Linked DNA regions of Homo sapiens. The protein of the gene in region 1 interacts with the protein of each later gene in a pairwise test. Each region holds a gene or a part of one and is shown on either strand. Other genes may lie near its edges.

The links.
Region 2: the proteins of EVI5L (region 1) and TBC1D21 interact in binary tests that used the Homo sapiens proteins (3 or more experiments, as listed by UniProt).
Region 3: the proteins of EVI5L (region 1) and ZNF648 interact in binary tests that used the Homo sapiens proteins (3 or more experiments, as listed by UniProt).

Annotation. Positions count from the first base shown.
Region 1 is NC_000019.10:7,828,450-7,832,197, forward strand, and holds the start of EVI5L (EVI5-like protein), read left to right. Parts: upstream 1-1,768; 5' UTR 1,769-1,932; intron 1,933-3,748. UniProt on the Homo sapiens protein: Functions as a GTPase-activating protein (GAP) with a broad specificity.
Region 2 is NC_000015.10:73,883,514-73,887,261, forward strand, and holds part of TBC1D21 (TBC1 domain family member 21), read left to right. Parts: intron 1-637; coding exon 638-732; intron 733-1,267; coding exon 1,268-1,378; intron 1,379-1,489; coding exon 1,490-1,590; intron 1,591-2,564; coding exon 2,565-2,661; intron 2,662-2,998; coding exon 2,999-3,099; intron 3,100-3,748. UniProt on the Homo sapiens protein: Acts as a GTPase-activating protein for Rab family protein(s). Essential for the establishment of male fertility, and is required for both the production of normal sperm number and sperm function.
Region 3 is NC_000001.11:182,055,047-182,058,794, reverse strand, and holds part of ZNF648 (zinc finger protein 648), read left to right. Parts: intron 1-721; 5' UTR 722-784; coding exon 785-2,491; 3' UTR 2,492-3,748. UniProt on the Homo sapiens protein: May be involved in transcriptional regulation.

The DNA.
Region 1 (3,748 bases):
CTGGGGAGGTTTATTAACAGTTCCAGAACGTTGGCAGATGCAAAATAGACAGGAAGAGGGAGGGAGAGGCAGAGAGAGCTGGACAGAGGCCGGGACCATACGTGGATGTCAGTCACTGCTTGCAAGGCCACACAGAGTCTCCTACTACAGAGAAGGTTGAGCTCTCAGACCTTAGGAAGTCCTGACGTGCCCCTCCCTGGGTCCAGCCTTCCCTTCCCCATTCTGAACTTAGGACATCTAGCTGGGCGAGGTGGCTCATGCCTGTAATCCCAGCACTTTGGGAGGCTGAAGTGGGAGAACCTGGCACCAGGAGTTTCCGACTAGCCTGAGCAACATACCAAGACCCCAGCCTCTACCAAAAAAATTAGCCGGGCATGGTGTGCACGCACCTGTAGTCCCAGCTACTGGGGAGGTTGAGGCGGGAGGATCATTGGAGTCCAAGAGTTCGAGGCTGCATTGAGCTATGTTCGCATCACTGCACTGCAAACTGGGACACAGAGCGAGACCCTGTCTCTGAAAAATAAATAAATAAAAACACACTTATGACGTCACCCTCTCTGCTATGACAAGGTCCTTCCCTGCCCCACCCCCTCCAGGGCCCATCCCTACATCTTGGGGAGGAAATAAGTCCATTTTGGTCAGTCTTGCCCGCTGTCAGTAACTGTCCCTACGAATTCCTCTCTAGCTTGAAGGATTCTCCACCTCTCCCTTCTCTGTTAAAAGAGTCACGGGCCCATTTTCATTCATTCATTCATCAAATGTTTATAAGCAGTTTCCATGCTGGGGACCTGGAAGAGACCCGACCTAGGCCCTGCATCCCGACTCCCCGAGGATCTATCAGCCTGGGAGGATGGGGAATGGGAGGGCCTATCCCTCCCCACGATCACGGCGCGAACCGAGCTTTGATGGAGAAACACGCGGCTCTGTGAGCTTTAGAGAACACATTTAACCTGGCCTGGAGTAAGACAGGGGACGGGCCTGAATCTTTTATGGGACCCGCCCCCAATATCAACCGCCCCGTCCCCAGCACAGAACTGGGCTCCTAGACGACACGGTGCCATCACGTCCCCAGTGAGTCTTCAGGATTTCTGGCCACGCCCCTTCTCAGACCCAACCCCCGAGCCCCTCCCTTGCTTGACCCCGCCCCATCTCTGGCCTAGGCCACGCCCTCCTCTTAGCCCCACCCCCATTTCATTCAACCCAGGCCTCAAGCCCCACCGCCCAGGACGCCAATGCTCCCACCAATCTCACATACCCATTGGTCAGAGAGTGTCACTTTCCCGCCCTCCTTCAGTAGCATTGGTTCCCTAGGTGTCAATCTTCTTTATGGCGCCCCCAGCAGTTGCCAGGGCCCAGGTTTGAGGGGCAGATAATAATGGACGTCTCGGGGCGTCTCGTTATTGGGCAGAAAGCCCGGCTCTGGGCGGGGCTTAGTGCCAAACGCTTGGCCGCGTCTGCCTGGTGTTCCTCAGGGCCGCAGCCTTTCCTCACGGACACACCCCCACTTTCCTTGCTATTGGTCTTATCAGGTGTTGATCAATAGGATTCCTCATTCCGATACGCAAAACTACCTGTCCTTCACCGCTTCCCTCATTTCAATTCGCTCTCTCCTCAGAGGCGGCAACCTTCTGAACGTAGCCAGGGCCCGCCTCACGGAATGGCCACGGAATGGTCAGACACCCCGTCACTCCTGGCTGGTGGGCGGGGCCAGGGCGCCTGGGGGCGGCGAATTGGCGGATGGGGCCTCGGGGGCGGGGCAGCGGCTCCTGTCAGCGGGTGAAATGGCAGCGGCGGAGCCGGCGGCGGCCGCGGTCCCGGGGGGCGGCTGAGGGGGCCGGGCCGGGGCTGCGGGGCGAACGGCGCGGCTAGGATCCGGCGGCTCAGCCCGGGGCGGCGAGGCTCGGCACGGAGATGGCGGCGCGCTCGGCGCAGGTAGGGCGGCGCGGGCCGGGCCTCCCGGGCGCCTGCTCAGGCCGGCGGCTCCGTGATGCGGCCCGCGGGGAACCGGCAGGACCGCAACTCGGGCCGTCGTGCCCCGGAACCCGCGCTGGGAGCCTCGGCATCCCCAGCCCGGGACCTTCGGAGGACCCTGGCCCCTGCCCACCCTCGTTGCCGATCCCTCCGGACCCCTCCCCAGGAGCTCCTGCAGGATCCCCCTCCCCCACTCCGTCCCCTCCCCATGAGGACCCCGCAGGCCCAGGACCCCCGTCCACCCTTTGCAGTGACCCTCAGGACTCCTCTCCGGGAACCCCCTCAGGGCTCCCCATCCCCCCACTCCGCCGATCAGCCCCTCAGAAGCGCCCCCCAAGCCCAAGAACCCCCGTCCACCTTCTGCCCTGATCTCTCAGGACCCCTCCCTTCTGGACAACACTTGCCACCCCCTCCCCGCACCCCCTCACTTCACGTCCTCCTATCTTGGGCCCAGAACTGCCCCCACCTCTCCCCAAGGAGACCAGCCTCAGGGCCTACCCGCCCCCCATGCTGACCCCACAGGACCCCTCTCTGGCCTCTGTAAGTCGGATTTCCTACCCCTGCCCACAGCCCTCAGCTCAGCCTGCTAGCCCATCTCCCACCCCAGCTGCCACATGCCCAAGGGCACCCCTAAACACCACTCCCCGGCGTCCACCCAGCACACTGTGGTAGCTCCACTGATCCTGCCCCATCTGGATCCTGGCTCCTGGATCCTGAAAAATCCACCCATGCTCAAGACCTCCCGTTGGATATTCTGAACCACCCCACTCCCCATCCAGAGCCACCCATCTTTCTGAAAACCCCAAACACACACACACACACACACACACACACACACACACACACACACACAGTCACTTAGATCCCCCAGCACACACAGAAAAACTTAAGAGCTCCAACATAGACCCCAGGCATATCTGCCCCTGCCCCCACCCACTCAACACTTCTGCACCCCTCCTCAGATCCCACCTGTCCAGGCCCTCCCAGAGTCCCCGACAGCTCCCCCAGCTCAAGCAGAGATTCCAGAGACCATGAGGTGCCTGCCGCACCCCAGGAAGCCAACTTGCCCCTCCACCAAACCAGCGCCCACACTGGAGCCTTGGAGGGTGACAGGGCCCCAGAATCCCCCAGCACCTACCCCTGTGGGAACCTGCCCCAGGCCTCTGCCAAGTTATCCATCCTTCCCTGCTGTGCCCTTTCAAAGGGAAGGACGCTCACTTTCTCTCCTACACTAGTGTCCCGAAGGAACCACTGCCCGCCCCCTGATTTATGCCACCCCCTGGCGGGAAGGGAGAGGATTCACAGCTCCTGGCTTCCGTCCTGAAGTCTGCCCCCAGCCTCCTGACCCCATCACGCCTACTGGCCTCAAATGCCAGAGCCAGCAGGGCGGTCCAGGTTGCTCCTCAGAGCTGGCCCCTGACAGCCCGAGAGTTCTTTCACCCACAACTAGTGTGTTTGGCCAAAACAAAACAGCTTCCTTCTATCTTGGCATTTGAGACCTGGGTCGGGGCCTGCCAGAAGCAGGCAGCTCTTTGTTAAGGAATATTTTCAGAAGGGAAAAATGTGCTGAAGAGGCTCGAGTGGAACATGAATGAGTTGTCTGCTTCGTTTTATTCCCCCTCGGCCGGGATGTGATTGAGCTAGAGGACCCGTGTCCCTGTGTCTTTCCGTCTTTTGTGGCTCTTCCCATCCATCCCGCCGCCCTCCCCACTCCCAGCTCTGGCCTCAGGGTCCAACCTGTAGGTTCCTCTGGGCTTCTGTGGTCAGCGGAGGGTGG
Region 2 (3,748 bases), on another chromosome or scaffold:
TGAGACCTTCTGCTTTCTGTGTGTTATAAGAACACATGTCATTGGATTTGGGGTCCACCTGGAAAGTCTTACGGATCTCGTCCGGAGATCCTTGACTTAGTCACATCTACAAAGACTCTTTTCCCCCACATGGTTACATTCACAGGTCCTAGGGGTTAGGACATGGATATGTCTTTTTGGAGGCCACCATGCGGCCAGCAATACCAACTAATCATATTCTAATAATGAGGACAAAACACCGCCTCACTCAGCACTTCCAATTCTGAGGCACAGGTGCCAGTATTATGCCCATTCTACAGATGGGGAAACTGAGGCTTAGAGATGGAAAGTCGTGTCCCCAAGACTTGCCCCCAGTGGCAGACACCCCGTTATTAAGATGTAGAGCCAGGATTCAGGTGCAGCGTTTGGAGTACAGAGCCCAAGAAGTTAAACTGTCTCTGTTCTGCAGTCCAGGTGCATGTTGGAGGACAGTTAGGGTGGCACAGGTTGAGATGAGGGACAGCATCACAGGTAGGGTGCATGGCTGGGTGAGGGTGCTGCCCTGGATCTGCCTGGGGCCTGGTAGCTGCAGCTGCTCATTCACCACTTATCAGAAGGGGAAAAGCCACCTTGTTCAGCCTCAGTTCTGTTCTCACAGGAAGAACTACAAGGCCTTATGCCAAATGTATGAGAAGATTCAGCCCCTTCTGGAAAACCTGCACCGGAACTTCACAGAGACTCGCAATAACATTGGTGAGCAAAGTGGGGTGGAGAGGGCTGGGCAGAGGGAGGGCTTGAAGCCAACCCTGCCCCCTTCTCAGCCACTTCCAGGGAGGGATGGCTCCAGGATCCTGGGAGTTGCTTTGACTTGTGCCTGGAGTTTCGCCAGCTGAACCTTGGTTAATCCACCCCACCAGTCTCTCCTGGGTGGCCCTAGATGCCCCATACCATGTTTTCCTGGGTGCATGATGTTCCTGCTGCCTGGTCTTCCTCTCTCCTTTCTTTGGCTTTGAATGAGGTTGGATTTGAACTGGACAGAGAGGAAGGGTGGGGGAGGACATTCCTGGCCGAGGGTACGGCCTCGTTAGAGGGTTGGAGGTGGGAAGAAACACAGACAGCTCAAGGTGTGGTGAGGAACTGAGCCTGGCAGGGGCTGATGTACCTTTCACAGCTCCCTCTCCCTCCAGGATGTCCTAGGGCCTGCCCATTGGGGTAGGGGAAGAAATTCACCCATAGACCTGCTGGATGTGATCTGGTGCCACCTACTTGCCCCTTGCTTCCAACCTAGCACGTGACATTCAGAAAATCTATGACAAAGATCCCCTGGGCAACGTCCTCATCGACAAGAAGAGGCTAGAGAAGATCCTGCTCCTGAGTTACGTCTGCAACACGCAGGCAGGTGAGCCTCAGCCTCCCCTTGTCAATGCCCTCCCAGGACCTGGCCCAACCTAAGCCAAGGGTCCAGGCTCTCCCACCCAGCCCCTCCTCCCCAACCCCCTCTTCGCCACAGAGTACCAGCAGGGCTTCCATGAGATGATGATGCTCTTCCAGCTGATGGTGGAGCACGACCACGAGACCTTCTGGCTTTTCCAGTTCTTCCTGCAGAAAACGGTGAGGGCAAGGCCTGAGCTCAGGGACGCCCCTCCCCAACCCCCCACTACTCCCCAAACAACTCTTTGAGGATGGGCAGGCATTGGCCACCCCAGCCATTCCTTCCAGGCTTCTGGGTCTCAGAGGAGCCTGGGAGGGTGACGCTAAACCCAGTGGTTCAAAGTAGTGGTGGTGGGGAGGCACTGAAGTGGAGAAGGGGGATGGAGCAAAGCTCTGGGTCCACCTCTCAACAAACCTTGAAAGAGCATGGCTGGCCAGGCCCAGGGAAGGTGCCCTCTCCTGGCATTTTCTTCCCCAAGCACGGTTCTCCTCCCTCCTCGCTGCTTCTTCCTCAATGGCTCCCTGTGGCCTCCAGAATAAAATCCAATAACCTTAGCCAGTCATTCAGGGCTGTTCCCTTCACATAACCTGAATTCCAGGCACACCAGGGGACTCAATAGTCCCCAGGGGCTCCCTCACTGTCCAAGTTGAGGGGTTTTGAAGGTGCAGCTCCCTGGAACACCTCCCTGGAAAGCCTTTCCTCATGATCTGCGAGAGGCTGCCCAGAACCCTCCCTCATCCCTCCCTCCACCCCACCATCCCTGCACATGTGCTTGCTGCCCTTCCCTTGTCCCAGTTGGCTCTGCCCCAACACTATTGTGTGAGGGAAGAACTGGGCAACTGGGCTCACTAGACTGTGAGCCACAGTTGAGAATCTCTACTACACACACATACACACACACACACACACACACACACTACACAGCCACCCAGAGGCGTACAACATATACAGACAAACTTGCATACACAGATCACAGTCACATAGATATGTATGCACACACTCACACACACACACTCAGACTCATAGAGACATGGGCCCAGCGCACAGACAGACACACAGAGCCTCCAGAAGTGAAGCTGGGGGAAGCAGAGTTGACTCTTCCGGTGCCTTGAAGCCAAGGGGGACTCAGTCTGTCTCCCACCATCGTGTGCAGGAACACAGCTGTGTCATCAACATTGGCGTGGCCAAGAACCTAGACATGCTCAGCACCCTGATCACCTTCCTGGACCCCGTGTTTGCTGAGCACCTAAGTGAGTGGTTCCCACCTCCTGCCACCTCACGCACCCCCCAGGCATGGGAAGGGGGCTGGGACCCAACTGTCAGTCCCTAATCATGGGGGGGCTGGAGAGCAGCAGAATCATTTGATTGCTTCTCCAGGCCCTGGGAAGAGGGTTATCTGGATGGGGTTGGAGCCTGGACAGTTGAAAGTTGACTCTAAACCATCTCCCAGGGCAGCTGGAAAAGGGGCGGCAGGCTTTTTGTATTTCCCAAGTGTTTTGCAGGCTCTGTAGTTTGGCCTCATCTGCATGTGTTTGCTGCATCATATGTGTTTTCCCCTGACCACAGCCTCACCTTCTCTCCCCACAGAAGGGAAGGGTGCAGGGGCTGTGCAGTCCCTCTTCCCCTGGTTCTGCTTCTGCTTCCAGCGTGCCTTCAAGTCCTTCGATGATGTCTGGAGGCTCTGGGAGGTGAGGTGTCCAGCTAGGGATCATCAGGCTGGGCTCCACCCATCAGGCAGAGTGGAAGCTGCAAGTCTTCCTTGCCTCCCCCTTTCTTCCTGGCTTGGATGGAGTTCAGTATCTCGGGGTTTTGTTAGGTCAGCAACCCTGCTCCCACCTTGCTGGAGGAAGCTGGAGCATCACTTTGTCCATATGTTCATTTAACACAAAGGCCCCACTGACTGTGCCTTCTGCTAGCAGTTGACACAGGAGGGCCCTATGGCCTGTGCAGTGGGAGCCTGGGCCTGCAGCTCCACTTCCCCGCTGCCCTGCCCAGGTGGCCTCCCCACGCTTTCACTTCCCCAGCTGTCCCCCCAACCCTGGCCTTCCCCTTCCCCAGAGTGCTGCTCCTGTGGAACTCTCTCACAGAAGGTGGGTCCCTAAGGACACCTGTAGTCCTGTGACCACAATCCTCAGGGCCATCAGCAGATGAACCCTCTGAGGAATGCCACCCCCACCCATCAATGCCCTGCCCATGGCCACCGCTGCCTGCAGTGTCCAGCCCAACCATCCACCTGGCATGTAGGGCCCCACAGATCTATTCCCACCTGCCTCTTGGCTGGCTGGTCTCCATGCCCAAGTCCATGACCACACCCAGGCCTTTGGTGACATCCTTGGG
Region 3 (3,748 bases), on another chromosome or scaffold:
ATGTTTATGATGAAGCAAAATTTCAAAGACAGGTCAAGCTCTCAGTGGGCATCCTCTGCCCCCGGGTGCTTATGGGTAGCCTTCCTGGCAGTTAGGAGTTCCTCAGAAGTTACAAGGGCCTGAGAAGCCCCGCTTAATCAGTGAGGGGCAACTGGTGCCTTCCTGACTCACCCTCATTCTCCCAAGGGCTGCTCCTTATCTTTGGAAGAGGTGGCCTACACAGCCCAGGGCCTGAGAGGTAACCCTAGCTGACACCATCATGGGATGGCAGACTTCCATTCCTGGCAGGGACAGCAAAAGCCAGCCTGGTTTCCAGCTTCCTGAGTGGGGGACACTGTAAGAGTGTCTTAGGAGGACCACAGCTTGGTTCCTACCCTCTCATCGAGTTGTCCCCCATGCTGACAAAGGACACATTTGGTTAGTGGTTGGGGATGAGCACCCTAGACAGGACAAGGCACAGCTGGCACCCAGCAAATGCCCCACCCTGGCTATTCCTGACAGCATGGTCTCCTGGGGCTTATAGCAAGTGGGATCTCCAGAGGGAATAGGATGACTGGAATTTTCAGCAGAGCCAGGCCTCTGTCCTCAGTGAGGCTCAACAATATGCCTGACATGGAGACCAGTTGGAAACAGAGCTATAGTGGGAACCTCAGTCCCTCTGCTCATGAAAGTGATTAAGTACATTCTTTGTGATTTTCTCTTCGTACTTTTCTTTTTGCAGGTATCCTGAGCCAAGCAGGATACTCCTCCTCAGAGGAGTAGGCAATAGAAGCGCCTGAACATCATGGCACAAGTGGACTCCCAGGACAGGTGGGGAGAGGCGTCTCCTCTCAGCAGCTTGACTGAGGAAGCTCATGACACCCAGATGCTGAGCATGAACTTAGAGAGTGACGATGAAGATGGTGGGGAGGCCGAAAAAGAGGGCACCGCTGACCCGGTGGCCTGTCCAAGGGGCAGCTCCCCAGTAACACACGAAAATCCTGACTTGCCATGGCCCCATCCACTGGGCAAAGAGGAAGAGAAATTCTCTGACTCCTCCAGTGCTGGGGGCATGGGGCAGAAACCAGTGGAAATGTCTGGGAAAGCCAGTTGGAGCAGAGATGTGACAAAGATCAACGAGACCCAGGGTTCCCCGGGAGCAAGCAGAGCTCTGGGTTCCCTTCCCAGTGGTCTCGCACACAAATTGTTAGGTCAGATGCAACCTCTTGGGGACCGACTACCTGCGGGTGATGATGGATACTCGGGGGCAAACCAGGACGCAGTCTTGGATGTCCCACCCAGCTTCCCCAGCAATGGAAAGTATCTCTGTGCGCACAAAAGTGTAGACACGTCCGCAGGGAACTCTTCTCTGTTGTGTTTCCCCAGGCCGGGGAGCAACTGGGACCTTCCCACGCAAGAGACACATACACCAGCCCAGGCGTCGGCCACCCCAGCCAGCCTGGCTGCCGCGGTCCTGGCAAAAGCGCGGAACAGCAGGAAAGTACAGAACCAGGCGGGCCGGCGCGAGGGCGGAGAGGCTGAGGCGCGTCCCTACAGGTGCCTGCGGGGCGGGCGGGCCTTTCAGAAGCCCAGCAAGCCGCTGAGCCCCGCGGAGACGCGCGGCGGCGCCGCCAAGCGCTACGCGTGCGAGCTATGCGGGAAGGCCTACTCCCACCGCGGCACACTCCAGCAGCACAGGCGCCTGCACACGGGCGAGCGGCCCTACCAGTGCTCCTTCTGCGACAAGGCCTACACCTGGTCCTCCGACCACCGGAAGCACATCCGCACCCACACAGGCGAGAAACCCTACCCGTGTCCAGACTGCGGGAAGGCCTTCGTGCGCTCTTCGGACCTGCGCAAACACCAGCGCAACATGCACAGCAACAATAAGCCCTTCCCGTGCTCCGAGTGCGGCCTGACCTTCAACAAGCCGCTGTCGCTGCTGCGCCACCAGCGCACGCACCTGGGCGCCAAGCCCTTCCGCTGCCCCGCCTGCGACCGGGAGTTCGCTGTGGCCAGCCGCATGGTGGAGCACCAGCGCGTGCACTCGGGCGAGCGGCCCTTCCCCTGCCCCACCTGCGGCAAGTGCTTCACCAAGTCCTCCAATCTGTCCGAGCACCAGACGCTGCACACCGGCCAGAGGCCTTTCAAGTGCGCTGACTGCGGCGTGGCCTTCGCGCAGCCCTCGCGCCTCGTGCGCCACCAGCGCATCCACACTGGCGAGAGGCCCTTTCCTTGCACGCAGTGTGGCCAGGCCTTTGCCCGCTCTTCGACCCTGAAGCGGCACCAACAGATCCACTCCGGGGAGAAGGGATTCCTCTGTGCCGAGTGCGGCAGGGCCTTCCGCATTGCCTCTGAGTTGGCCCAGCACATACGAATGCACAACGGAGAGAGGCCCTACCAGTGTGAGGACTGCGGCCAGGCCTTCACCAGGTCCAATCACCTCCAACGACACCGAGCCAAGCACGGCACCTGCAAGAAGGAGCCCATCCCTTCCTCCTCTGACGAGTGAAGATAGCATCGTCGACCTCACTACTTGGAACCTTCCCAGGTGGGCCCACTCACATGGTATTGCCAGCCTCACTGGTCAGCCTCGCCTCCCAGCAGGTCGCGGGTCATCAGTGGTCCATTTGATTATTTATTTGATCCCTTGAACAGAAAGTCACCACCGAGAGAGCACCCAGGTGGGTGGTTTCACATCAGTGGTTCTGAGTGTCCGAGGTCATAAGCAATTGGAAAAGGGAAAGACAAAGTAGTGGGAGCTGATCAAACGTTGAGTTCCTTGGGTTGGGGAACCTGAATCAATCAGAAACTGCTTCTAGAATTACATGCTGGGCACTGGGCCGGGCTCCAGGGATAAGGTGGGGAAAAAGACTAACCTGTCCTACCCTCAAAGCCATATGCAAATACTGAAAAGAAGGCCTGAGGGGCTGGTCCTCTTTAGAGAAAGATGCTTTTTGGTTTTTATATAAATAAAGGAATCCCCAGAAGTGGTCCCTATGATGAACTCCCCCAAAGCAACGCCGTTTTTGGAGGAACTCAAACCCAGTCCAACATCCCATCATTTCACTTGACTGCAGAAATGGCTTTACCCTTAGGATATATCTTTATGAGTCTTGGCTTTGAAGTGGAGAAGGGCTTTATCTTAGAGAAGGTGGTTTATGTCATATTCCAGTTATTCTAGAAGTTCAGGACAGCCTTAGCATCTGAAAAAGAAGCCCATTCCTCTTTATAGTGGAATTTAGTAAGTAGATCTAACCCGAGTCTCACCCACAGAATTCATATAAATTCATATATGCCTTCTCTCTGGCTGCCTCTTTTCCTGTTTGCACTCTGAGGGCTTAAGTCATATGTGATATTTACAAAGCAATTGGCCCATTTACAGAGAGACATATATAATTTCTCCACAAAGCCTTGACCATGGTTCATGAAACCGTTTGGGTTCATTTAAATTTGTCTGAATCATTAGTCTTGACTTGAAGTGAACAAAACACCCTTTGCCCAAGTGCCATTGGCTTGTCTGCATTTCAAAATCATTAAAACCAGGTATGGAAGCCTACGTGCTCACAGTTATCTAATGAGGTTATTTCAAAGTTTGCATTACTAACAGCCATTCTGCAAAGTGTATTGATGTGTATAGTGATCTGTATAAAGTCAGTAGTTCTTAGCTGAACCTCAACTGTGAGGAATCTATGACTCCACAGATGTCCTTGGTGCACATAGGCAAACGGCACTTCTCATCTTACTGAAGTTAAATAAGATATTCCAT